Linked DNA regions of Homo sapiens. The protein of the gene in region 3 interacts with the protein of the main gene of each other region in a biochemical or structural test. Each region holds a gene or a part of one and is shown on either strand. Other genes may lie near its edges. The genes, in order: PAQR3, SIRT1, PPARA, NRIP1, CDC34, BCL2 and CEP350.

Region 1 (3,500 bases), on a different chromosome or scaffold from region 3:
GGTGATGAGTTAAGGGTTCTACTCCGTAAGGTTTGGTTGGCCAATATTTTTAGGTCAGGTGCTGTATTATCTGATTACAGTGTTGCAAATGCTGCTTTGCACAAGGCAAAAACTGACTTTTGTGTGAACTTAGTGACAGAAAGCAGAGTTGATCCAGAATTCAGAAAAGACACATCTCACATTTGTTAAAGACACTGACTCCTATCTGGTCTGTCTTACAAGCCTACCCCCAAACATAAGACTGAAGACAGGAAAACATATTTTACAGAAGAATATGGGCTAATAAATTCAGATATATTTTCCTGTATTTTTTTTCACTGAGAGGAGAAAAAAGAAATGGTAAGCAGTAACCAACTTCATAATTTTAACAAGTGTTAATTTTAACTTCAATTCTATAAACACACAAATAAAAGATATATAATGTGCATATCTGAGGAACCACGCAGCCATATAGATTTAGTGAAAACATTAATAATTTAATGTCTACATTAAGTTTCAGAAAATAACTGTATATATATTTTCCAATAGAAAATTAGTAAAGTAAGTATGGAACTGATAACAGATGTTAGAGATGACAGGGCCATTCTGAAAAATAAGTTTATGCTTATACGAGACTCTTCTATTTAGTCTATAAGTTAATTATGTACTTATTCAGAAATTCAAAAGAACCAAGGCAAGAAAACCCAAGACCAATATGAAAGGTCGAATGTAAAATGTTTTCATCTACTTACGTTATTACAATAAAATGCGTAAAATACTCCTGAGACATAGCAGCCCAGTATTCCAATAGAAATTCCTGCATAATCTAATGCCATCCATCTTCGACATGTTTTTTCTGACCGATGGCAGGAAAAAAGATGATAGCCCACAGAGCAAAGCATACAGACCTGTGAAAAATAAAAACAAATTAACAAAGTGACTAAAGAAACTAAAGCAACTTATGCATGATATTCAGGGAAGTAGTTAAGAGGCTAGGCTTTCAATTCAAACATTTATGGGCTTGGATTCTAGCTCTGTGCCTTACATGGCTACTGTAGAGCTCACTCTACATGTAGAGCCATGTAGAGCCATGAGGGAAAGCCTCAGTTCCCTCATGGGTAAAATGTAGATAATAATAATGAAGGAGAAAATTTAAAATAACTATATTACAAAATGAAAATTATAAATAAATAGCACAGTAATGGGAAAGTTATACAATGCAAATGTTTTAAAACTATCATCTGAGGCTTGTTTTGATCCATGAATTAATTTGTTTTTAAAGAGTATTTACTATAGAAGCAATATATAGCCTTAAAAAAATCAAAGAACATAAATATAAGCCCCTCTTACTCAATCTATTCCCCAGAGGTGGCCAGTGATAACATTTTTTATGTGTCTTTCCAGATATTTTCAATACATATGTCAAACACCTGTGATATATTAGTCTATACACATGCACACATTATATATATATATATATATATATATACACACACATTTTAAAATTAAATGAAATCACACTATGCATTCTGTTCCACAATTGGCTTTTTTTCAGTTAAGAATGTTCATGTCTGTATGAGATTCATTGTATAGAGTTTACTTTTAATTTCTAAGGTAAACACAGTTTTATTGCCTTCAAGAAAAAACAGGCTGGTGTAGTAGTGGCTCATGCCTGTAATCCCAGCACTTTGGGAGGCCATGGTGGGAGGATCTCTTGAGCGCAGGAGTTCGAGACCAGCCTGGGCAACATAGGGAGACCTCATTTCTTAAAAAAAAAAAAAAAAAAAAAAAAAAATTGGGCATGGCGGCATGCACCTGTGGTCCCAGCTACTTGGGAGGCTAAGGCAGGAGGATTACTTGAGCTTGGGAGATCGAGGCTGCAGTGAGCCGTGACTGCCCCACTATACCCCAGCCTGGGTGACAGAGCTGTGACTGCCCCACTATACTCCAGCCTAGGTGACAGAGTGAGATCCTGTCTCAAAAAATAATAATAATAATTTAAAAAACAGTGATGACTTGCTAACTTTATATGGTTGCCAAACTGAGAGTAAAGCTAATCTGATTCAATCAGCTGTTCTGATAATTGATAAGGTTCTATGGCAGAATGCCTTTCAGCTATTAAGTACCTGCTGTATGTCATACATTGGAGGTGATACAGAATCACTGAACAAACAGTACAGTAACAAATCCTACTGTACTTCAGTGCACAGCATAATTGGAAAAGGTGGGAGGATATTGACTCTGTGGAGGTACATGTGCATTTGGAGGGTGGGACTGGTGGGAAGAAAAGTATCAGAGAAGGGCTGTTCACCTGAGGCAGATTTTAAAAGTTGGGCTGGCATTCACCAAGGACATAAAAAAAGGTGTGCACATATTTATGGCTGGGGGCAGGGATTAAGGAAAAGCATCATATTCTTTATAATATGATTATGACATTTCCTATACATTAATGGGTTTTAACTTCAATATTATGGGTATGATAAGATACTCCTGAAGATTTTAAGTGCCCCCCAACAGAGGTGTGGACTAGAAGGGCTGAAACAGGAGGTTACAGAAATAGCCCTGGAGAGCAAACACTGAGACAGTGACAGTGGGGTGGAGGCAATGGGACAAATAAACAGTATAAAGTAGTTACAAATGATAAACATTTTGTAAGCTATTGCTAAGGCAGTAACATGGTCATCTAGCTATTAATATTTTATATTCTGGTCATTAAACAAATCTAGTTACTATAGACTCAATATCAGTATTCAATAACAATGTACTTTGCCACAACTTCATTGCTTCATCAATTGTCTAAAATCCTTAATAGTCTATAGCTTTTTGGTTACTAAGCAACCAATCAGTAACTAATTCTAAGTTAGTTATTTAAACGTAACTCAAAGAAGTTTGGTTATTTGTTTTCTCAGATTATCCTTGAGATTAAGCACCATAAATCAGGAGAACATAAAAGTGTATATTTCTCATTGATGGGGAAAGATCCCATTGCCACAATGTTGAATGACACAAGGGCAGGTCGCAAAATAGCAAGCAGAGATGACTGTAGCTTGGAAGTAGGTAGACAGGTAAGGGAGCAGGCAGGTAGGCAGGTGCAAGGTAGCTATGCATACACAAACATACGCATTTGGGTTAAACTCATTGTTTAACGCAAATGTCCAATGTGGTTACCTCTGAAAAGTGGAATTTCAGGTGACGTTTTCTTCCACAAACTTCTGTTTGCCTAAATTTCTACATGATTATATCTTGTAGTAATAATTAGAAACAAACATAAAGCTCATTTCATTGTGAAAAAGAAAATAAAAAGAGGAAAAAAAGAAACTATGGTATCCAAGGGAAAAGTAAAATAGCATTAACAGAAAACCCCAGATTTTAAAGTTAACCCATACCTAGTATGCCCTGTTTAAGAAGGAATATGTTATTCCTAGAGTTTAAAAATGGACTGAAAGATAATCTGGCAAATTGGGTATGTTTCAGTTATAATGGAAAGTTTCCTTCTATGGAGTACCTCACTCCATCAAGGT
Region 2 (3,500 bases), on a different chromosome or scaffold from region 3:
ATGCTAGGCAACAGATAAAATAGGACCTATAATAGTAAGCAAGTGATAATAGCATGCCAAATGCAGAATTTAAAAAATAAAATAACTCCAAAGCAAGGTCAGGGAAAAAGAGCAAGTACCAAGACTCCACCGTCCCTGAATTAACTGTGTGCCTTATCCACGTCCACCCCCACCCTTTCTAAAGGGTAGAGTAAGAAACACAAAGATGTATGGGACACTAGATTTAGCTCTTATTAATTCAACTACCTTTAAGACAAATCATAAGGGACATTTTTGTTTTATTTTATAAGCCTGCTTTTTTTTTTTTTTTTGAGACAGAGTTTCGCTCTTTTTGCCCAGGCTGGAGTGCAATGGCGCGATCTCAGCTCACCACAACCTCCACCTCCCGGGTTCAAGTGATTCTCCTGCCTCAGCTTCCTGAATAGCTGGGATTACAGGCATGTGCCACCACCCCAGCTAATTTTGTATTTTTAGTAGAGACGGGGTTTCTCCATGTTGGTCAGGCTGGTCTTGAACTCCTGACCTCAGGTGATCCGCCCACCTTGGTCTCACAAAGTGCTGGGATTACAGGCGTGAGCCACTGCACCCGGCCAAGCGTACGTTTTACATATGTGAGAATCTGAATGATTTGAGTCTTTGACTCATACTTTCTGTCAAGTATGAAATGGGCCATGTCTGAATTATTAGATTTAAATATAGTGTTCAAACTAAAAGTAGTAGTACAGGTGTGGTGGCTCACACCTCTAATCCCAGCACTTTGGAAGGCCGAGGCGGGCAGGTTACTTGAGACCAGGAGTACGAGACCAGCCTGGGCAACATGGAGAAACCCTGACTCTACAAAAAACACAAAAATCACAAAAATTAGCTGGGCCTCACGGTTCATGCCTGTAGTCCCAGAAACTCAGAAGGCTGAGGTGGGAGGATCACCTGAGCCCAGGGAGGTAGAGGTTCCAGTGAGCTATGATCGTATCACTGCTCTCCAGCCTGGGTGACAGAGTGAGAGCCTTTAAAAAAAAAAAAAAAAAAAACAAACAAAAAAAACTAAAAAATCTGAAATAATGAAAAAAATTACTCTGGAAGGACTGTTCTAATATACCACTCCTCCTAAGATAGGACCACTTGTTGAAAACCAATGACTGGAGATACAACTTACAGATAGAATATGGATTAACTCTTCCATGGTGAAAGTGTGACATGCTTAGTCCTATTCCAAACAAGACAGGCCACCCAGTTTGAATATCCTAAAGCCTTTTTAAGCAACCAATCATGAGGGCTGGGCCATTCTGTTGCTGCCATAGGGATCCTTATAGACCAAGAGTGGAAGCAGAACTGGAATCAAAGGCTCAAAACACTATTAAAACAAACCCTGCTTTCACATAGCTGTGTCTGGAAACATGCAAATAATCCAGGAATTGGCCATAGGCAACCAACGTGGTCAAAACTAAAGCTTAGAACTATCCGCAGAAATTGGCCGGATGTGGTGGCTCATGCCTGTAATCCCAGCACTTTGGGTGGCCGAGGTCGGCGGATCACAAGGTCAGAAGATCGAGACCATCCTGGCTAAGATGGTGAAACCCCGTCTCTACTAAAAAATACAAAAAAAAATTAGCTGGGCATGGTGGCGGGTGCCTGTAGTCCCACTACTCGGGAGGCTAAGGCAGGAGAATGGCGTGAACCCAGGAGGTGGAGCTTGTAGTGAGCCTAGATCACACCACTGCACTCCAGCCTGGGTGACAAAGAAAGACTCCATCTCAAAAAAAAAAAGAACTATCTGCAGAAATAATGGCTTTTCTGCAGAGATTATGCCTTTCTTTCTTCTCCAAATTTCTAGCAATATGAATAAAAGACCCTAGAGTAAAAGGCATAGGTGTAAATGCAGTCCCTCAAGACTAAGAAAGCTGGGCATGGTGGCACAGGCCTGTAGTTCCTGCTACTGGGGAGACAGAGGAGGGAGAATCACTTGAGTCTGGGAGTTAGGGAGCTGTAGTACTCTATGATCGTGCCAATGGATGGGCACTACACTCCAGCCCGCACAACATAACAAAATTCACACCCACCTTTTTTTTTGAGAGTCTCGCTCTGTCACCCAGGATGGAGTGCAATGGCACAATCTCGGCTCACTGCAACCTCCACCTCTCCTGGGTTTAGGCAATTCTCCCACCTCAGCCTCCCAAGGAGCTGGGACTACAGGTGCGCGCCACCACATTCAGCTAATTTGTTTTTAGTAGAGACAGGGTTTCACCATGTTGGCCAGGCTGGTCTCAAACTCCAGACCTCAGGTGATCCACCTGCCTTGGCCTCCCAAAGTGCTTAGGATTACAGGTGTGAGCCACTGTGCCCAGCCAAAATTCCCTCTTTAAAAATCAGAATTTTTAGAGAATTCATCAAAATTTACTGATGTTAATCTTTGCTGATATCCACCCCCTCCTATATATAGTTCAGATGGAGGCAGTTAAGTAGAGTTGCTGAGAAAATAGAACCTAAACTTTCCTTCCTGTCAAAAAAAGTGAAATGCATCAATCCTGCTAAGGAGAGTCCTCATAATCCCTCCTGTCTCTTTCATTCCACAAAACCACACTTGAATAAACTGCTCAACATCTTAATCAATACTAATAAATTGGTCATATGACAAATTCAACTGTATTTCAATATATAAATAGTATGGCTATGTTCTAATAAAAGTTTGTATTTATGAACACTGACATGAAAATTTTATATAATGTTCAAGTGTCATGAAACAGTTCTTTCAATTTTTTCCCCAGTCATTTAAAATTAATTATTAGCAGGGGGTGGAGGTGGGATTGGGAAGACGCTGGGAAGAATAAGTTCAGGAGATCTATTGCTGACTATAATTAAGAACATATTGTAGCCGGGCGCGGTGGCTCACGCCTGTAATCCCAGCACTTTGGGAGGCTGAGGCAGGCGGATCACCTGAGGTCAGGAGTTTGAGACCAGCCTGGCCAACATGGTGAAACCCTGTCTTTACTAAAAATACAATAACTAGCCGGGCGTGGAGACAGGCGCCTGTAATCCCAGCTACTTGGGAGGCTGAGGCAGGAGAATCGCTTGTACCTGGGAGGCGGAGGTTGCAGTGAGCCAAGATAGCGCCACTGCACTCCAGCCTGGGGACAAGAGCGAGACTTCGTCTCAAAACAAAAACAAAAACAAAAACAAATATTGTATACCTGAAAATTATTAAGAGTACATTTTAAATGTTCTCACCACCAAAAAAAAGTATGTGAAGTAATGAATATTAGCTTGAGTTAGCCATTCCATAATGTACACACATCAAAACATCATGTTGTACACCACATAAACTTTATTTGTTGATTTAAGTAATAAATTAATGCTTAATGCTTAGCTCACAGCCTATACAAAAACATGGAGTGGGCCACATTTGGACTGAGGCCATAGTACGCCAACCCCTGTATTAACCTAACACAAGAGAATGTCAATTAGTTAAACTGCCAGTCGCCACTTAATAAATTTTAGTATGTACC
Region 3 (3,500 bases):
CAAACACCTACTGGATTGTTACTGGCCTTTCCTGAGAGGATGACCCGGGCTTTGACCTTGTTCATGTTGAAGTTCTTCAAGTAGGCCTCGTAGATTCTCTTGGCCAGAGATTTGAGATCTGCAGTTTCAGAATCTTCTATGTCATGTTCACAGGTAAGAATTTCTGCTTTCAGTTTTGCTTTCTCAGATCTTGGCATTCGTCCAAAACGAATCGCTAGGGTTTGGAGGGGGAAACACAGGCATGAGCAGTGAGGTCATGACTGCGCGGACAGGGCTGGACGAGGGGCTCCCCCAGGACTTTAAACCAGGAATGAAAATTCACAGGCAGTTCAGACCCATCCTTCATTACTATTCGGCTTTCCACTATGGAGAGATGAAAAACTCAAACTCCATACACTGTAGATGTTTAAACAGGTGCAGGCTGAAGGTGACACCATCGTTAACAGGTGCAGGCTGAAGGTGACACCATCGTTCGTCTCATTAGTAGGGTGCACACCACTATCAGGTGCATCATCAACCTTTGAGTGAAGGAGGTGAACGGGGCTTCGGGATGAGTTTATATAATAACTGCTTCTTTTTCCAGAAGGTAGACATGCAACTCTTATGAACGACTTACATTCACATCACAATTAGCATGTTCTGAAACTATTAAATGATTGGCTAGAAGGAAATTCATAACGTGGTGAGATGTTTGAGGTGGTACACCCTTCCTATGGACGAGGTGAACATTCTGTCATTTTGGTGCCTTCCACTTGGTTTTTCGATTCTGTATCAAAGTCTTACCACTGAAGTTTCTAACAGCGAGTCCAATGCACCACTGAATCTCAGCTATTTGAGACTTTTTCTTTTTTTTTCTTTTTTTTTGAGACGGAGTCGCACTCTGTCGCCCAGGCTGGAGTGCAGTGGTGCGATCTCAGCTCACTGCAACCTCCGCCTCCCGGGTTCAAGCTATTCTCCTGTCTCATCCTCCCAAGTAGCTGGGATTACAGGTGTGCACTACCATGCCCAGCTAATTTTTGTATTTTTATTAGAGACGGGGTTTTGCCATGTTCGCCAGGCTGGTCTCAAACTCCTGACCTCAAGTGATCCACCCGCCTCGGCCTCCAAAGTGCTGGGATTACAGGTGTGAACCACCGCACCTGGGAGACTTTTATTTTCTTTCTTTCTTTCTTTTTCTTTTTTTTTTTTTTGTGAGACGGAATCTCCCTCTGTCGCCCAGGCTGGAGTGCAGTGGCGCAATCTCAGCTCACTGCAACCTCCGCCTCCCGGGTTCAAGCGATTCTTCTGCCTCAGCCTCCCGAGTAGCTGGGACTACAGGCATGTGCCACCACACCCAGCTAATTTTTGCATTCTTAGTAGAGACGGGGTTTCACCATATTGGCCAGGCTGGTCTCAAACTCCTGACCTGAGGTGATCCACCCACCTCAGCCTCCCAAAGTGCTGGGATTACAGGCGTGAACCACCGCGCCTGGGCGACTTTTATTTTCTTAGGCCACTCTGATTACAAAATGACTTGGGTGTGAAATGTTGAAGCACATTCATCCATAGCTTGATCTGTTCCCTTGGAGCAAGGAAGGGGAACTGAGGAACGAACTGGGAAAATGTGCAGGGCCACCTTACCTACCGTTGTGTGACATCCCGACAGAAAGGCACTTGTGAAATCGACAATACTGGCATTTGTTTCTGTTCTTTTTCTGGATCTTGCAGCTGCGGTCGCACTTGTCATACACCAGCTTGAGTCGAATCGTTCGCCGAAAGAAGCCCTGTGAGGGTAATACACAGTGGATTTAAAGACCTGGGCCACTGAGAAACCAGCGCACTTGCTTTACTCACCTTTTTTGTTGCTCATTTATTGTTTCTTTTTAAATGAACAAAATTTAGAGAAAAGTTATTCCAGGCCAGGCATGGTGATCATGCCTGTAATCCCAGCACTTTAGGAGGCTGAGGCGGGTGGATCACCTGAGGTCAGGAGTTCGAGACCAGCCTAGCCAACATGGTGCAACCCTGTCTCTACTAAAAATACAAAAATTAGCCGGGCATGGTGATGTAAGTCTGTAGTCCCAGCTACTCAGGAGGCTGAGGTAGGACAATCACTTGAACCCAGGAGGCGGAGGTTGCAGTGAGCTGAGATTGTGCCACTGCACTCCAGCCTGCGCGACAGAGTGAGACTCCATCTCAAAAAAAAAAAAAAAAAAAAAAAAAAAAAGAAAGAAATAGTTCTTCTAAGAAGTCTGGAATGATTAGGACAAATACAGAACTTTAAATGTCGTTACATTTAATGTGAAAAACAATAAAATGAGGCAGCATTCGAAGTCATTTCAAAATGCCCTCATCTGACTTGGGAAAACACAATTATAGTTTTCCAAAGAGTTACTCAGCCTTGTTACAATGTATATGAATGTAACTATCCCCAGCATTGTGACATTTCCATATTTGTGACTAAAGACTTTCTAAGAATTTTTGTAAGAGTATATTAACTCCCTCAAAGACAAAAATTATAATAAAAGGAAGCCAGCTGTTTGTAAACAATTTTCTTGCTTTGTAAAAGCATCTTAAACTCTACCCAGCAAGAAACAATGTTACTAAATAGTCCATAAAAAACAAAACTAAATGAATAATTAATCATGGCCCTAAGGAAAAGGCCACTTTATAAGGAGCTTTTTCAAAGGTATATGGTTAGAAAACATGCGAAGGAGTTCATTTTTGCTTTGGGTTCTTTTTTCTCTTTGCTTTTAAGTCATTCTTCTATATTTTTGCCACAGTGGGTCTGCTTGGCCCGCGGGAGAGGGACAGCAGTGTGCAGGGGAATGTGAGAGGCAGGCTGACGTCTTCATAATGTCCTTACCTAGGCTTGCACAGTGGGGAGGCTGAGGAACGCATGGGGTTAGAATGGGAAGGGTGGGGAGACAGGCTTCTAGACAGCAGAGTGCCACAGTGTCCTGGCTGTGAGGTTCTCCCTGTGGCCCAGGCCTCTGAGGCCAGGCCTGGCTCAGGGCAGAATGCTGGTGTTCCAAGATGGTACATTGTGCCAGAAAGGCGGTGGCATTTTCCAAGTTAGTGAACACCTGCAGCGTGCACCGTGAGAAGGGATTTCTGATTCAAACCAAACATTCAGATGATGATCTCCCACATATCACGTACATAAGGCGCCAGACTTGAGCACGTCTGTGCAACCCTAAAGGGACGCTGCTACAGGAGCTCTCCTCATCACCACGCTGACAAACACGGAAGGGCCACCAGTCCAGCTGGCAGCATGCAGGACAACAGGGCCTGCCTTCATGCACTCCTGGCCCAGGTCACATCTGTTTAGGGCAGGCTGAGCCAGCAGGAGGATGAAGATGCACAGGGGGTTCCTGTCGCTTGAATCAGGTGGAGAAGCCCCTGATGTGCAGGAAGGAACTGCTGGGGAGCAGGAGCAGCCAGTCTCTGGTTCCAGTCCCTGCTGCTGGGGGCTGTGGGACCCTAAGCAAGATACTCTGTGTCTCTGATGGCCAATTTCC
Region 4 (3,500 bases), on a different chromosome or scaffold from region 3:
CTCATGACCTTTGTTCCACTTTGTCCAACATGATGAGGAGACTCTGCAAACCTATCTCTGATGAGGTTTTTAGTCACATCAGGAAGATTCGTATCAGGCTTTTGATCTTTAACTTTACTTTTCTTCAACAAAGTTTTTAAGTGACTTGATGCAACACCATAGCACCTTAAATCCTTCTCCACTTTTAAAGAATCATGACTGAGGGCATATCCTTGCTCCTTGAGGCTCTGCCTGATTTGTTGTGACAGAGCAACAGTCTGCAGCCTAGAGCTGAATGACTGAAGCAAAGAGGCCAGTAATGTGCTATCCTGTTTGCCTTTAGGCACACTGTCAACCATGCCAGCTAGCAAAGCTTCCTTCTTTACGTTTAAATTCATGATAGAATCAGACAGCCTCTTCCGCTTTGCTGCATTCCAGTCCTCAGAAGACTGCAACAGTCTGGCTTTTTTGAGGTGCAGCATGCCAGACCCCTGATATGTATGTGTATTGAGAACTGGACCATTACTTTGACAGGTGGGAAATGCACTGCCAGAAATGTTAAAGTTCTGATCCTCTTCATTATGCCCAGCAGACTTTTTGTCAACGGCAGTACCTGATCCCCCTGCTGCCTGATGCATTAGTAATCCTTCTAGGTAAGTTAAAACAATAGAATCCTGGTGCACATCAGAGCCAAGCTCTTCTCCATGAGTCATGTTCAATAGAAGTGTTCACAAGGGCTTGGTTTCTATTCACTTTAAAGAATGGTTTTCTGTGGTGAGTGCGATGTAACTTTAATAAAGGAGTATCAGTTTATCACCTTCCATCGCAATCAGAGAGAGACGTACTGTTACATTCTGTCCAAGATTTCTTCTGGCAATGACAAGATAAATGCAGTCTGACCACAGTGCTGATCAACTTCTACGCAAGGAGGAGGAGAAGAATTCCTTAACACATAGGTCTGTAGCAGTAAGCAGATAGAATCCTTAGTGAATATATTCCTTTTCCTTCTTCATCTTTTGTTCCCCATTAAATGCAAATATCAGTGTTCTAAAAAAAATAAAAATAAGAATAGTTAAGGAGGCAGAACTAGAATCACGTTATGATACCTACAAGCAAAATAATATAGCATCTGTAAATGTATATATATATTACATATAAATAATAGACATATAAATGGATTATAGTCACTTTAGTAATTTGTTTTATTGCCGTTCCTATTCAATTGAAAATGTCTACTGGAAATCCTGTGGGTTAATGCATACTGTTAAAATGATCAAATCATTAGAGAAGAGAACATACTTTAATGTTACATAGCCATCTTCCAAAGCCGCCAAGTCTCTGAATTTTCATAAGCACCTTTCTGCAAAGTAATGTGAATGTTCAGTCTCCTTTATAGCTTTATAGCTCTACAGGGGAACTAGAACTTGCTTCCTTACATTACTGGGCACTTAGGAAGAAACAAAAGTAGATGTGCAGAAAAAGGAAAAGAGATGCAGACTCTGATGAGTCTGATGTGGGGTTGAGGCCAACAGAACAGATTCATTTCTGACATCATCCCCCAAACACCAGACATTCCATAAGTAATTTTTAGAATTTCCGTTTTCAAAAAAATGAAACCACTAACAAGTTGAAGATTATTTTGTGAGTCTGTTCAAAGTGTGACCATCTTAATCATATTCATAAACATTAAAATACAGTCATAAACTTACCTACCCATACTTTTTACCATGACTTATTAAAGACAGAGAGGAGTGATTCTTTAGATGCTTGTTCAGGGCTATCAAGGGTTTAATGTAGTTCGTTAGTAAATCCTTACTCATGTGCTCTATGGAGAAGTCTTAATGTCAGGTCCATTCCTTACAGATACAGAAGACAGGGAGGGCATAAACATATATAAAAAGTACAATGGAGAATGCCAAAGACATTTTAGTCACAGTTTGAAAAATATTCCAATGATATTTATTATCTAAGAAGAGACCAAAAAATTTCCTATCACTAACACATACACAACAGAAGAAGCAAGAACTCATTGCATTTCTGAAAACTTGATAGGTAAGTGTCAAAATTGACCTAAGGAAGGGGGGCCATGACACCTTTGGAAGAGAAGCTGGAATAAATTCCATGCAGTTTGTTTTTCAAGATGCCAGAACATTTTGTTTAAGTTATCAGACCTGAAGCTATCAACAAATACCTTGGTCCCTATGGAATTTAAAAGATAAATTTTAATTGAAAGACTACCCTGTAGCTTTTTAAGTACAATGCTTAACTCTAAGTCAAACTTTAGGAAATAATTATCTGATTGTATCAAATTGTTGAATTTATTGATTAAAAGGATAAGAAATGATAGCCAAAGAAAAAGATACAGAAAGGAGGCAGCAACAATTAATTTCAACTGTGTAAGGAGTAGGATGAGAAGAGACTTTCTTGAGATTCCAATGCCACCATTTTAAGAAGCTTTGCCATAATGTACTTAAGATGGATATTTTAAGAGGTTAATAATGATATAGAAATGAAATGGTTATCATGACTGCCACCAAATATCCATTCTCCCATTTTCATTTACTAATAAAACCCTGACTTGTTTTTCAGGGAGTAGGGAGGTATCCCAGCTAAACACTACTTTTCTCCCCCCTCTGGTTATATTTTACAATTGATGGCATGTTGCTTAATTGGAGGCTTATTTTTCTTTCTTAGTGGTATAAAACATACGGGTACATTTTACAACTGATAACATCTTGGAGTTGAGGAAACCCAGTTTTCTAATTCTCTCAAAAAACTTAATATGGCCAGGTACGGTGGCTCACACCTGTAATCCCAGCAATTTAGGAGGCCGAGGTGGGTGGATCGCCTGAGGTCAGGAGTTTGAGACCAACCTGACCAAAATGGTGAAACCCCATCTCTAGTAAAAATACAAAAATTAGCCGGGTATGGTGGCATGCGCCTGTAGTCCCAGCTACTCAGGAGGCTGAGGCAGAAGAATTGCTTGAACCTGGTAGGCAGAGGTTGCAGTGAGCCGAGATCGTGCCACTGCACTCCAGCCTGGGTGACAGAATGACACTCTATCTCAAAACAAACAAAACAAAAATAACAACTGCTAATATACAATTAATTCTCAACTAGTTAAGACATTTAACAACCATTTAATGGGATATGCAAGTCCACTGTATTTCTCTCCACACCACTGCCAACCTTTTTGCTCTTGGGTAGACTCAAGAAAGTCAAAATCATACCAGTCATTTGAAAACTGGTTTGTAAACAGCCATAAAACATACTTTATTTAAGAATAAGAATGAAATAAGGAGCATCTTTGAGTTCATATTACTCCTGTTATTGCTTTCTACTTTTTACTGTGCATGATATAATTTGCAAAGTATTATTCATTGCTTTAAAAAGACTGAATTTACACATTTCTGAATTTACAAAGCAGATTTGGAAGTTGATTTAAAAAGGAATTATCACAGTTTCCTTGTAAAGGAGCTCTAACACTGTATTTTACCATTTATTTACCTCTCTACCATTTA
Region 5 (3,500 bases), on a different chromosome or scaffold from region 3:
ACCAGGCCAAGAGCCTGCAGGGACGCACTCCAGACATGAGTAAGGCCAACACCCCTGACTAACAGTCAGTCACTGGGCACACACAGCACGACCCCATTTTTTCATTAAAGCACAGACACATGTTCCCTAACAGTCAGTCACTGGGCACACACAGCACGACCCCATTTCTTCATTAAGGCACAGACACATGTTCCCTAACAGTCAGTCACTGGGCACACACAGCACGACCCCATTTCTTCATTAAAGCACAGACATGCGTTAAACTGAAAAGCCTGGAAGAATCTATGAAAACACTAACCACCAGGCCAGGTGCAGTGGCTCACGCCTGTCATCCCAGCACTTTGGGAGGCCGAGGCGGGTGGATCACCTGAGGTCAGGAGTTTGAGACCAGCCTGGCTAAGATGGTGAAATCCCACCTCTACTAAAAATTACAAAAATTAGCTCGGCGTGGTAGTGGGCACCTGTAATCCCAGCTGCTTGGCAGGATGAAGGGGGAGAACTGCTCCAACCCGAGTAGTGGAGGCTGCAGTGAGCCGAGATCGCACCACTGCACTGCAGCCTAGGCAAGAGAGTATAACTCTGTCTCCAAAAAAAAAAAAAAAAAAAAAGGCCGGCCGCGGTGGCTCACGCCTGTAATCCCTGCACTTTGGGAGGCCGAGGCAGATGGATCACGAGGTCAGGAGATCGAGACCATCCTGGCTAACACGCTGAAACCCCGTCTCTACTAAAAATACAAAAAATTAGCCGGGCGTGGTGACGGGCGCCTGTAGTCCCAGCTACTTGGGAGGCTGAGGCAGGAGAATGGCGTGAACCCGGGAGGCGGAGCTTGCAGTGAGCCGAGATCGCGCCACTGCACTCCAGCCTGGGTGACAGAGAGAGACTCTGTCTCAAACAAAAAAAAAGAGGAAAAGGGGCAAGAAGCTGGGCTTGAACCTGGCTGGACCCTCCGCCACTCGGCCCGGCCTCCATCTGTGACTGGCACCCTGTAAATGGGCACCAGGAAGCTCCGCCACCCTCACCAGGAAGGTGGGGCTGGGCGGCCGTGGGACCAGGGGCCGGGGTGCAGGCCGGATCTGAGTCTCTCCTCCCGTGACGCCCCCGCCCGCCCTCACCGGATGATGTCTGTGTACTCCCGATCCTTCCCCTTGCTCTCTTTCCACTTCCTGTACATCACGGAGGCGTCCACGTTTGCGGGCGAGAAGGTGTTGGGCTCGTTCAGGAGGGAGATCACACTCAGGAGAATGGTCCTGTGGGGAGAGTGGGTCGGAGTGGGGCGGCCCGGGGCACCCCAGCCTTCCGGCTCTTCTCTGGCCCTGAGGGTCACGGGGACGCCTGGACCCACCCAGCAGGTGACCTTCACCTGGCCTCATGGCCTCTGCTTCTGTCTCAGGCCCCCAGAACAGCAGGGGCTGGACCTGCATCAGTCTCCTCCCTCCCACGCCAAGACCAGGGAGGGCAGCAAGGTGCAGACCCCTCCGTCAGACCCGGGGCTGCCCTCACACCCGCACGTCCTGCCTAGACTACACTCCAGGACACACGGGCAACACGGCCCAGTGCTTGTACCTGGGGACGAGGCCCAGGCGGCACACGTGGCACGAGGTGACCAACCCAGAGACGGCTGGGTAAGGAGAAGGCCCCAGGACTGAGGATGGCGGGACACCTCTAGGTGGTTCCAGACGGTGGGGCCGGCCTGGGGTCCTGGTGGGAGTCTGCACCGACACACGGTGCCGCAGGCCCCGTGAAAGCACCTACCGTGCAGGTACAGCGAGGCCCAGGACCGCCAGCTGGCAGGTCCCGAATCAGGCCTTGGCGCCACAGCCTGTGGGGGAGCCCGGCCTACCTGATGGTCTGGGTGGATACGGGACGGAGCCCGGCCTACCTGATGTTCTGGGTGGACACAGGGGGTTGGGCCGGCTTACCTGACGTTCTGCGTGGGGTTCCACCTCTCTGAGGGCAGCTCCCCGCTCTGGGGGTCGTCCACCGGCGGGTGGAGGATGGAGATACACACGTCCCCCGTCTGCACAAGAAGAAGACAGGTCAGAACAGGTCAGAGGTCAGCACGGGCTCCCAGTGCCCCAGGTCCCGGAGGATGAGGACGTGGAGGACGAGGACGTGAGGCTCCCAGCGCCCCGGGTCCCGGAAGGACGAGGACATGAGGCTCCCAGCGCCTCGGGTCCCGGAAGGACGAGGACGTGAGGCTCCCAGCGCCCCGGGTCCCGGAGGACGAGGACGTGAGGCTCCCAGCGCCCCGGGTCCCGGAAGGATGAGGACGTGAGGCTCCCAGCACCCTGGGTCCCGGAGGATGAGGACTTGAGGCCCGTGGGGGCCGCGCTCACCTCGTAGATGTTAGGGTGCCACATCTTGGTCAGGAACCGAAAGGCTGGTGGAGAGTATGGGTAGTCGATGGGGAACTTGAGGCGCGCCTGCAGGGGCAGAAGGCAGGTGGCTCAGTCCAGCCCAGCCCCAAGACCTGCCCCAGCTCACAAGGTGCCCAAGGCCATCCCACTCCCAGTGCTGGTGCCTGAGGGTGTGTGTGAGGGACACCGTATCCTGCCCAAGGCAGGGACTCTCACAGGCCTGGGGTCAAGTCCCCAGAAGGCTGCCTGAAGCCTTTTCTGAGTCACCCGAGCTGATCCCAGCTCCTACACAGTCCAGGTGGCCGGGACCCGGCCCAGCACAACTGCTGGGGAACGTGGGCACTGGCTGCCCGCGTGGCTCCAGGCCCGTGGCAGCCCAGGTCAGGCATATGGGACCCAGGCCAGGGGCACCCACCAGCAGACAGAATGGACTGGCAGGGGCTCCAGGCTCCCCTTGGATGGAGCTGAAGCCCAGGACCAGGGCTGCACCTCCAGGGCCTTGGCAGCCAGGGTGTGGGGAGGGTTAGCACAGATGATTGCTCAGTTAGCAAACACTTGTGACACCTGCCCTGGCCCAGGCCGTGGGAGGGGATGAGTCAGTATGGCCGTCTGCCCTCAGGTGTCCGGTCTTGGGGGGTCAGGCAGGCAGACCCATAGGTCACAGAAACCTGGCAGGACTCCTTCCCTGTCAGCATCGCCCCCTGTGGTCACCCAGGCCCTGGAGGTCCAGATCTGCTGGCAAGGACGGCCACAGAGGGAGGCCTGAAGCCACGTGCCAGGTGACAGAGCTGTCTGGCCTGCAGCCTGGGGCGTGATGCCACCCACGGCCCTCCTGGGCCACAGCAGGTAAACAAGGAAGCCTCACTGTTTTCCTGCTGGGCCCCAGTGCCAGACACAGAGGTTGTCTGGGTCAGGGGTCCTGGTGGCACTCAGCACTCCAAGGCACGAGAGCAGCACCCCCAGAGCGATCGTGGTGGAAGCCTGGACAGGGAGGGCACTCAGGGGGTCTTGGATCGTGGGCGAGGTCTGGACAGGGAGGGCACTCAGGGGGTCTTGGATCGTGGGCGAGGTCTGGACAGGGAGGGCACTCGGGGGTCTTGGATCATGGGCGAGGTCTGGACAGGGAGGGCACTCGGGGGTCTT
Region 6 (2,462 bases), on a different chromosome or scaffold from region 3:
TGTGACTTGAAGGGTTGAGGATTAGGGTATCAGGACCTGAACCCAGTGGGAAACATCAGATCCCTTGCCATTTAGGGTTCACCTGCTCCAAAGCAAGTAGCTGCTTTGGTTCCATCTAAAAATGTTGACTTCAAAACAGAACTTTCAGCTTATTTCCCTCTTTTTCATACACATTTCATCTTATAAAATGCAGAGGCTGGGATCTCTGGTCTATATGGAAGAACACACTCAACAGCAACAGTAGCTCTCCCAGGGAGTAGAACTCAAGACTGGTCTATCTTGTACCTAACCAGGAGGGTTATTACCAAGAAACAAGAGTCTCCTTCTAAGGTGGTTTCACCTGTAAGGCAATCCCTTAGCCTGGTCCCTGAGGGCTTCATTAGAGTAGGGTCCTGGTGATTTTACTGGCTTGTTAAGAAGGCTTTTCAAAGTCTTGTGTAATGATGATGAATGGCAGGGCAAAATCATGTTAACACATTATAAACAATTCCAGGCACAACCAGTATCTCACACTGTACTTTATTTTTCTTCACAATATTAACTAGACAGACAAGGAAAGTTTAATGGCAATGTGACTTTTTCCAACAACACAAACAAAGTGCCATTATAGCTAATGGTGGCCAACTGGAGACTTACTTTACCTTAACCATGTAAAGTATCCTTACCGTATTTTTTATGTGTACAGTGTTGCAGAATATCAGCCACCTCTTAAAAGTATCAATCTTAAAAAGAGCCATGGAAGGTAAAAGTATGAAAATCTTGATAACAAAAGCTTTCAATACAAAAACACTTATTGTACACTTATTTTTATTTAAAACAAAAATAACCCCAGTAACTCAAAACAAAAGCAAACCTTGGTTGAAAACTTAAGAAGGTATAATAAACAAAACCACCAAAAGAAAGCTTCCCCAAAAGAAATGCAATCCACTGTCACTCTTGCAAATTCTACCTTGGAGGGAAAAACTTAATGAAATGAGCTATCTGGAGGGCCCACGGCAGATTTTCCAAAAGGTTTAGGTGCATGGATTTACTCAGTATCTACACTACAGTCTTATTTATTAATAGTCTCAGAATTTTCTTGATTGAGCGAGCCTTTCCATCCTCCACCAGTGTTCCCATCTTCTGTGCTCAGCTTGGTATGCAGAACAACCTTGTTGTTGATAGGATGTTTGCTTGAAGTTATTTTTCTGGGGCAGTCCAGATGAACCGGTACAGTACCATTCATGCTCCATCTGATTTTCTTTGCATCCAGTGAGATGCATATTTCATGATTGTCCAAGGTCATGGTTGTCCAAAGACATGGAACAGAATGATTCACTGGGTAAGACTAAAGGACTTGTATTATCACTCTCCAATTCAGTTTCACATTGCTTAATTTTATAAAATTTTTTTCTGTATTGTACATAATAAACATTTAGAAACAGATGTCCCTACCAACCAGAAGGTTGTCATTAAATATCCTGTTAGTTAAAACTGCACATTTATTGTTTAAATACCCATTAGACATATCCAGCTTGAAATTTATACCATTGCACTGCCAAACGGAGCTGCACTTTGAGCCATGCTGATGTCTCTGGAATCTAAAGGTCGTACCACAAACTTCAAAATGTTTCTCATTTGTCACACAAGGTTCTTCGCAGAGGCATCACATCGACCCCAATACAGGTCCTTCATACCCTTAGTTCTGGTTATTCTGAAAACTTCCAACTCCCTGATCCAAACTTGGGAATGTTTTACATTTAAAAATTCTTCCTCCCTCCCACCCCTCCAACAAATGTCCTTTGTCCCATAATAATTTAAAAAAAAAATCCCTGAAAGATCCAAATTGAATAACAATAAAGATCTGATTGGAACCTTCATAAGCTTGACAATGTAGAATTGTATTTCTTAAAAAGTGTGTAACCACATTTGTCTGGGCTGCAAAAGACACCACAGAATAAGATCAGAATAGAATTTCAACTGACTCCCTAATTTCCTTAGAATGGCTTGTATTTCGAGCCTTTCCTGTTTTTCTCTGATAGAGTAGGTGTACATTACTAACTATAAGTGATAAGAAAGTCTAAAAACAGCCACTGCCTTAAAAGTACAGTTGGAATTAATTAGAGTTTAAGTTCACATTTATAAACTATTTGTTTTAGGATAAGTTCAATTACAAATAGAGACTATTTGCAATTCTGTTCACTCAATAGATCCTGGAGGTGAAAGCTAGACATGTGTTGGGATTGCCCTGATTATTTACATTTAATCTTGATTATTATAACTCCTCTCGATTTATAATCACTTCCTAATTTTTCCCACTGGGCCAGAGCTACATCTTTAGATGATAAGCATTTACTAATAAAACAAAGATCACATATAAATGGAAGGCCACATCTGAACACAGAGAGGTAAGTGAGCTGTGGAGAGAATGTTGGCGTCTTGTTTGAACTAAATTGAGGTGCTTCCTTAATTCTGTGACTTTA
Region 7 (3,500 bases), on a different chromosome or scaffold from region 3:
ACTCAAATATGTTAAATTAAAAAATATCAACACTTCAGTATGAGAAGCATAATAATTTTACTACTAACAATATTTGAACTATCACCCTTAAAAACTTTACAAAATGTTATGTCAATATTAAAATTAGTGGGCATTTATTGTATGCTATATTGATGCATGTAGTTTGATTGTTGGTATATATTATATATCTTGTCTTACCTCAACTTAATGTTATTAATAATTTATTTTGTTACTTTTATGGTTGTTCTGTTAAAAAAACAATGTTCTTAACAGGGGAAGGGACACATTTATGAATCAGAATCACCTGGAAAGATTCTCAAAGTACCAACGTGCCCGGAAATTCCATCACTCCCTACCTGTTCACAGACACACATAGCATTCAAGCATTTTCAATTGTGAAAGGGTAGAAGGAATGGAGTATACAATGTGTTTTTAAAAAGCTAGTTACTTTAAGCCAGGGGATGGCCAATTTTTTCTGTAAAAAATCAGACTGTAAATATTTTAGGCTTTGCGGGCCATGTGGTCTTTGTCACAACTATTCAATTCCACTGTTGTAGTTACATGTAGTTGTAACATGTAAACAACTAGGTATGGCTGTGGTCCAACAAAACTTTATTTATAAAAACATACAGGGGCCTGGATTTGGCTTATGGGCCATAGTTTGCCAACCCCTGAGGTAAGCATACATCCCATCTCATAAATATCTGTTGGTGTTCTATAAGTATAAAATATTTTTAAAGGCTTTCTGTGATCAAATAAGTTTGGGAAATACAAGTTTAAAGCTTTGCTACTCAGCGTGGTCCTGGGACCAGCAGGACCAGCAGGACCAGCAGGACCAGCATGACTTGAGAGCTTGTTGGAAATGCAGAATTTCAGGTCCTACTCCAGACCTACTAAATCAGAATCTCCATTTCAACAAGATCCTCAGATCATTCACATGCACATTAAAAGTTGAGAATCACTGCTCTGGAAATATAACCTTTGCCGTAAAGAAACATGTGACTAGGCAGAGCAGATTGCCAGCAATGTGACTTTAAAGTTCATAGTCCTTGTAGCTTCTGGACAAAGGTTTACAAAGGTTTCTTAGATAACAAAATAAATATTTTTACGTATCACATTACTATCCTACATAGTTCAAAACCACATTACCAATTTGAAACCTCCAAAGTCAAAGATAAAGAAGTTAACACCTATGTGTCCAGGGCTGGCATATTGAAAAGACATATATATGACACGTATTCATATGTACTTTTAGAACATTATACCTATCTCTAAAGCCCCCAAAACTTACCTAAAACTCCTATTAGTTGCAATAATTTATCTCCCTAGGTATTTCCTAATTTTTCTTAAATATTATAATTATGTATATAGAGAAAATGACTGGTAAAAGAATTTTTTTTTTTTTTTGCACAAACTTGAGGATTCAGCCCTTTCACTCATTCCAATCCCTCCACTGTTCATGGATTCAGTAAGTCAACAAATCTTTATTGAATACCCACTATGGAACAGGTCCTGAAGACACAAAGGTTAATCATACAGAAGAGCACCTGCTTTTACAACATTTACAGATATGTGTAAATGAACAGCAAGTCAAAAAAGAAGACACTTTATAGTTTGCAGTTTACCTTGATTTCATCAAGGTTATTTGGATTTTTCACTCGTCGGAAATAACTAGAGTTGATTCTACATGGCTTCATCCAGACAGGTTGATTTAAGTTGGGATCCTCAGCAAATATTTCCTCAAAAATCTCTTTTGTTAAATCAAAAACCGCCTTGATAGAGAAAAACAAAACAAAACAAAACAAAATGGCTAAGAATCCAAATTTCAGACAATGGGAGAAAAGTTTAAAAACTAAAATTATCCTTTTATTTCACCTACCTGTTTGTAGACCCTTTTACTAGTGCTTTCTATATCTAGACCTTTACTGGCACAGCCAAGCAGTTTTGTAGGAATACTGATGCTATGAAGATCGTGGCCTAATTCTTTCCATTTCCAAAGTTCTTCTGCTGCATTATGTACAAGAATCTCTACTTCTTCTGCAGTATGGGGGACTGCCAATAATGTTTCACATGGTTGTTGGGTTACTCTTTTAGGTTCTGCCATTAGAGGTACAATGGTTTCTTCTGCCTTATTTTTTTGGATCTTGTGAGAAGAGCTCAAACCAAAGTCTTCATCAAACCAGTCTTGATCATCTCCTAACGCGCTCAGGAACTCCCGGCTGAGTTCAAGTTCAGCAAGTCTCTTAGCAAGTTCTTCCTGCCCACTGGCACCAAATACTGGGCTCTCCTATAGAAATGGAACCATTCAAACAGAGCACCATTTAGGGACCTCATATCATTTTTTTTTAAAAAAAGACAGAGTAAATGCATTATTTATATATCTAATATTTCTCTATAAGTAAGCAGAATAAAAAACAATATGGTGGCTACTAATAAACAATCTAAGAAAAAGTTATCCTGTTCCCTCAATTCTACTTATATAAACCTTGCATATAACTGAATTTTTATAAAATGTTTATTGATTAGGGCTCTCCCCGCTTTTTGTATTATCATTATTCTGTTTCTAAAGAACTGTCTATGGGATATGGAAATGGGATATAAAATTTCTCACCTCTGGTGACCATCTGGCTCAAGTTACTCAAAGTCATTACTTTTGCTCAACTGTCCATGGGCAACATAAACAAGCTGATGGTCTGAGTGCATGTCATAGTGGATCTATTTCATTTTACCAGAATCAACATCACAACTGCTAACCTCTGCAGGCCAACCATGACTGAGTAGATATGTAAACAATTTCACAGGCAAAAAAGAATTGGGTGGTGAGCCACTGGAAAGCTCCATGGAACGAATTTGTTCAGTGAATCTGGAAGGAGATGTAATCTATGGACAGTACAGGGGTTGTCAACTCAGCAGTTTAAATGGATGTTTTAGTTCCCCAAAACCTGCCAGTGCTTGTGACAACCCTATATTGACTACTCATGACATAATAGAGGACAATTACACTTCAGCCAGGAAAAACAGCTACAAGGCCTTTAAAAACCAGTACAGTGATCCTTCTCTAATAAACAACACGTCAAGGGAAAAAAAACCTATCAGGAGTCACAGAATTAAAATGTACTATATAGGCAAGGTAAGTTGCCTTGTTAAAAGTGTCAAAAGGTATACTGATACTTTTTCTAGACGAAATACTCACCGGTCTGGGACACATATCTGGAGAGGAAATCTCTTCTTTTTCATCTTCCAATTCAGAACTTAAGAAGCAACCTGAAATACTTGGCGACTGTTCCTCAACATTTTGGGATAGGTCTTGGGGTGTTACTTTCTTTTGGTCATCACCAAGAAGCTCCTGATTGCTAAGCTGGATTTTCTCATCCCTGGTTTTTTTGATTTGTTGTAGTTGATTGACTGTGTCCTTTACAAAGACTTTTAGTAAACTGTCTGTCAGTAAGCTGATTTTTTCCAGTTGTTGTTTTGACTTTTTTTCCTCATTTAGTGATGAC

The links.
Region 1: the proteins of PPARA (region 3) and PAQR3 form a complex in vitro, tested with the Homo sapiens proteins (one study listed by BioGRID).
Region 2: the proteins of PPARA (region 3) and SIRT1 form a complex in vitro, tested with the Homo sapiens proteins (one study listed by BioGRID).
Region 4: the proteins of PPARA (region 3) and NRIP1 form a complex in vitro, tested with the Homo sapiens proteins (one study listed by BioGRID).
Region 5: the proteins of PPARA (region 3) and CDC34 form a complex in vitro, tested with the Homo sapiens proteins (one study listed by BioGRID).
Region 6: of the proteins of PPARA (region 3) and BCL2, one has a biochemical effect on the other in vitro, tested with the Homo sapiens proteins (one study listed by BioGRID).
Region 7: the proteins of PPARA (region 3) and CEP350 form a complex in vitro, tested with the Homo sapiens proteins (one study listed by BioGRID).

Annotation. Positions count from the first base shown.
Region 1 is NC_000004.12:78,929,439-78,932,938, forward strand, and holds part of PAQR3 (progestin and adipoQ receptor family member 3), read right to left. Parts: intron 3,222-3,500; exon of another isoform or gene 3,148-3,221; intron 888-3,147; coding exon 732-887; intron 1-731. UniProt on the Homo sapiens protein: Golgi-scaffold protein which modulates its interactors acitivies by anchoring them to the Golgi apparatus. Functions as a spatial regulator of RAF1 kinase by sequestrating it to the Golgi apparatus.
Region 2 is NC_000010.11:67,901,656-67,905,155, reverse strand, and holds part of SIRT1 (NAD-dependent protein deacetylase sirtuin-1), read right to left. Parts: intron 1-3,500. UniProt on the Homo sapiens protein: NAD-dependent protein deacetylase that links transcriptional regulation directly to intracellular energetics and participates in the coordination of several separated cellular functions such as cell cycle, response to DNA damage, metabolism, apoptosis and autophagy.
Region 3 is NC_000022.11:46,216,526-46,220,025, reverse strand, and holds part of PPARA (peroxisome proliferator-activated receptor alpha), read right to left. Parts: intron 1,764-3,500; coding exon 1,625-1,763; coding exon of another isoform or gene 1,621-1,624; intron 215-1,620; coding exon 12-214; intron 1-11. UniProt on the Homo sapiens protein: Ligand-activated transcription factor. Key regulator of lipid metabolism. Activated by the endogenous ligand 1-palmitoyl-2-oleoyl-sn-glycerol-3-phosphocholine (16:0/18:1-GPC). Activated by oleylethanolamide, a naturally occurring lipid that regulates satiety.
Region 4 is NC_000021.9:14,967,501-14,971,000, forward strand, and holds part of NRIP1 (nuclear receptor-interacting protein 1), read right to left. Parts: intron 1,027-3,500; 5' UTR 693-1,026; coding exon 1-692. UniProt on the Homo sapiens protein: Modulates transcriptional activation by steroid receptors such as NR3C1, NR3C2 and ESR1. Also modulates transcriptional repression by nuclear hormone receptors.
Region 5 is NC_000019.10:534,760-538,259, reverse strand, and holds part of CDC34 (ubiquitin-conjugating enzyme E2 R1), read right to left. Parts: intron 2,424-3,500; coding exon 2,337-2,423; intron 2,018-2,336; coding exon 1,920-2,017; intron 1,248-1,919; coding exon 1,113-1,247; intron 1-1,112. UniProt on the Homo sapiens protein: E2 ubiquitin-conjugating enzyme that accepts ubiquitin from an E1 ubiquitin-activating protein, and catalyzes its covalent attachment to other proteins by an E3 ubiquitin-protein ligase complex. In vitro catalyzes 'Lys-48'-linked polyubiquitination.
Region 6 is NC_000018.10:63,122,846-63,125,307, forward strand, and holds the end of BCL2 (apoptosis regulator Bcl-2), read right to left. Parts: 3' UTR 501-2,462; downstream 1-500. UniProt on the Homo sapiens protein: Suppresses apoptosis in a variety of cell systems including factor-dependent lymphohematopoietic and neural cells. Regulates cell death by controlling the mitochondrial membrane permeability. Appears to function in a feedback loop system with caspases.
Region 7 is NC_000001.11:180,094,310-180,097,809, reverse strand, and holds part of CEP350 (centrosome-associated protein 350), read right to left. Parts: coding exon 3,194-3,500; intron 2,288-3,193; coding exon 1,880-2,287; intron 1,773-1,879; coding exon 1,626-1,772; intron 1-1,625. UniProt on the Homo sapiens protein: Plays an essential role in centriole growth by stabilizing a procentriolar seed composed of at least, SASS6 and CPAP. Required for anchoring microtubules to the centrosomes and for the integrity of the microtubule network.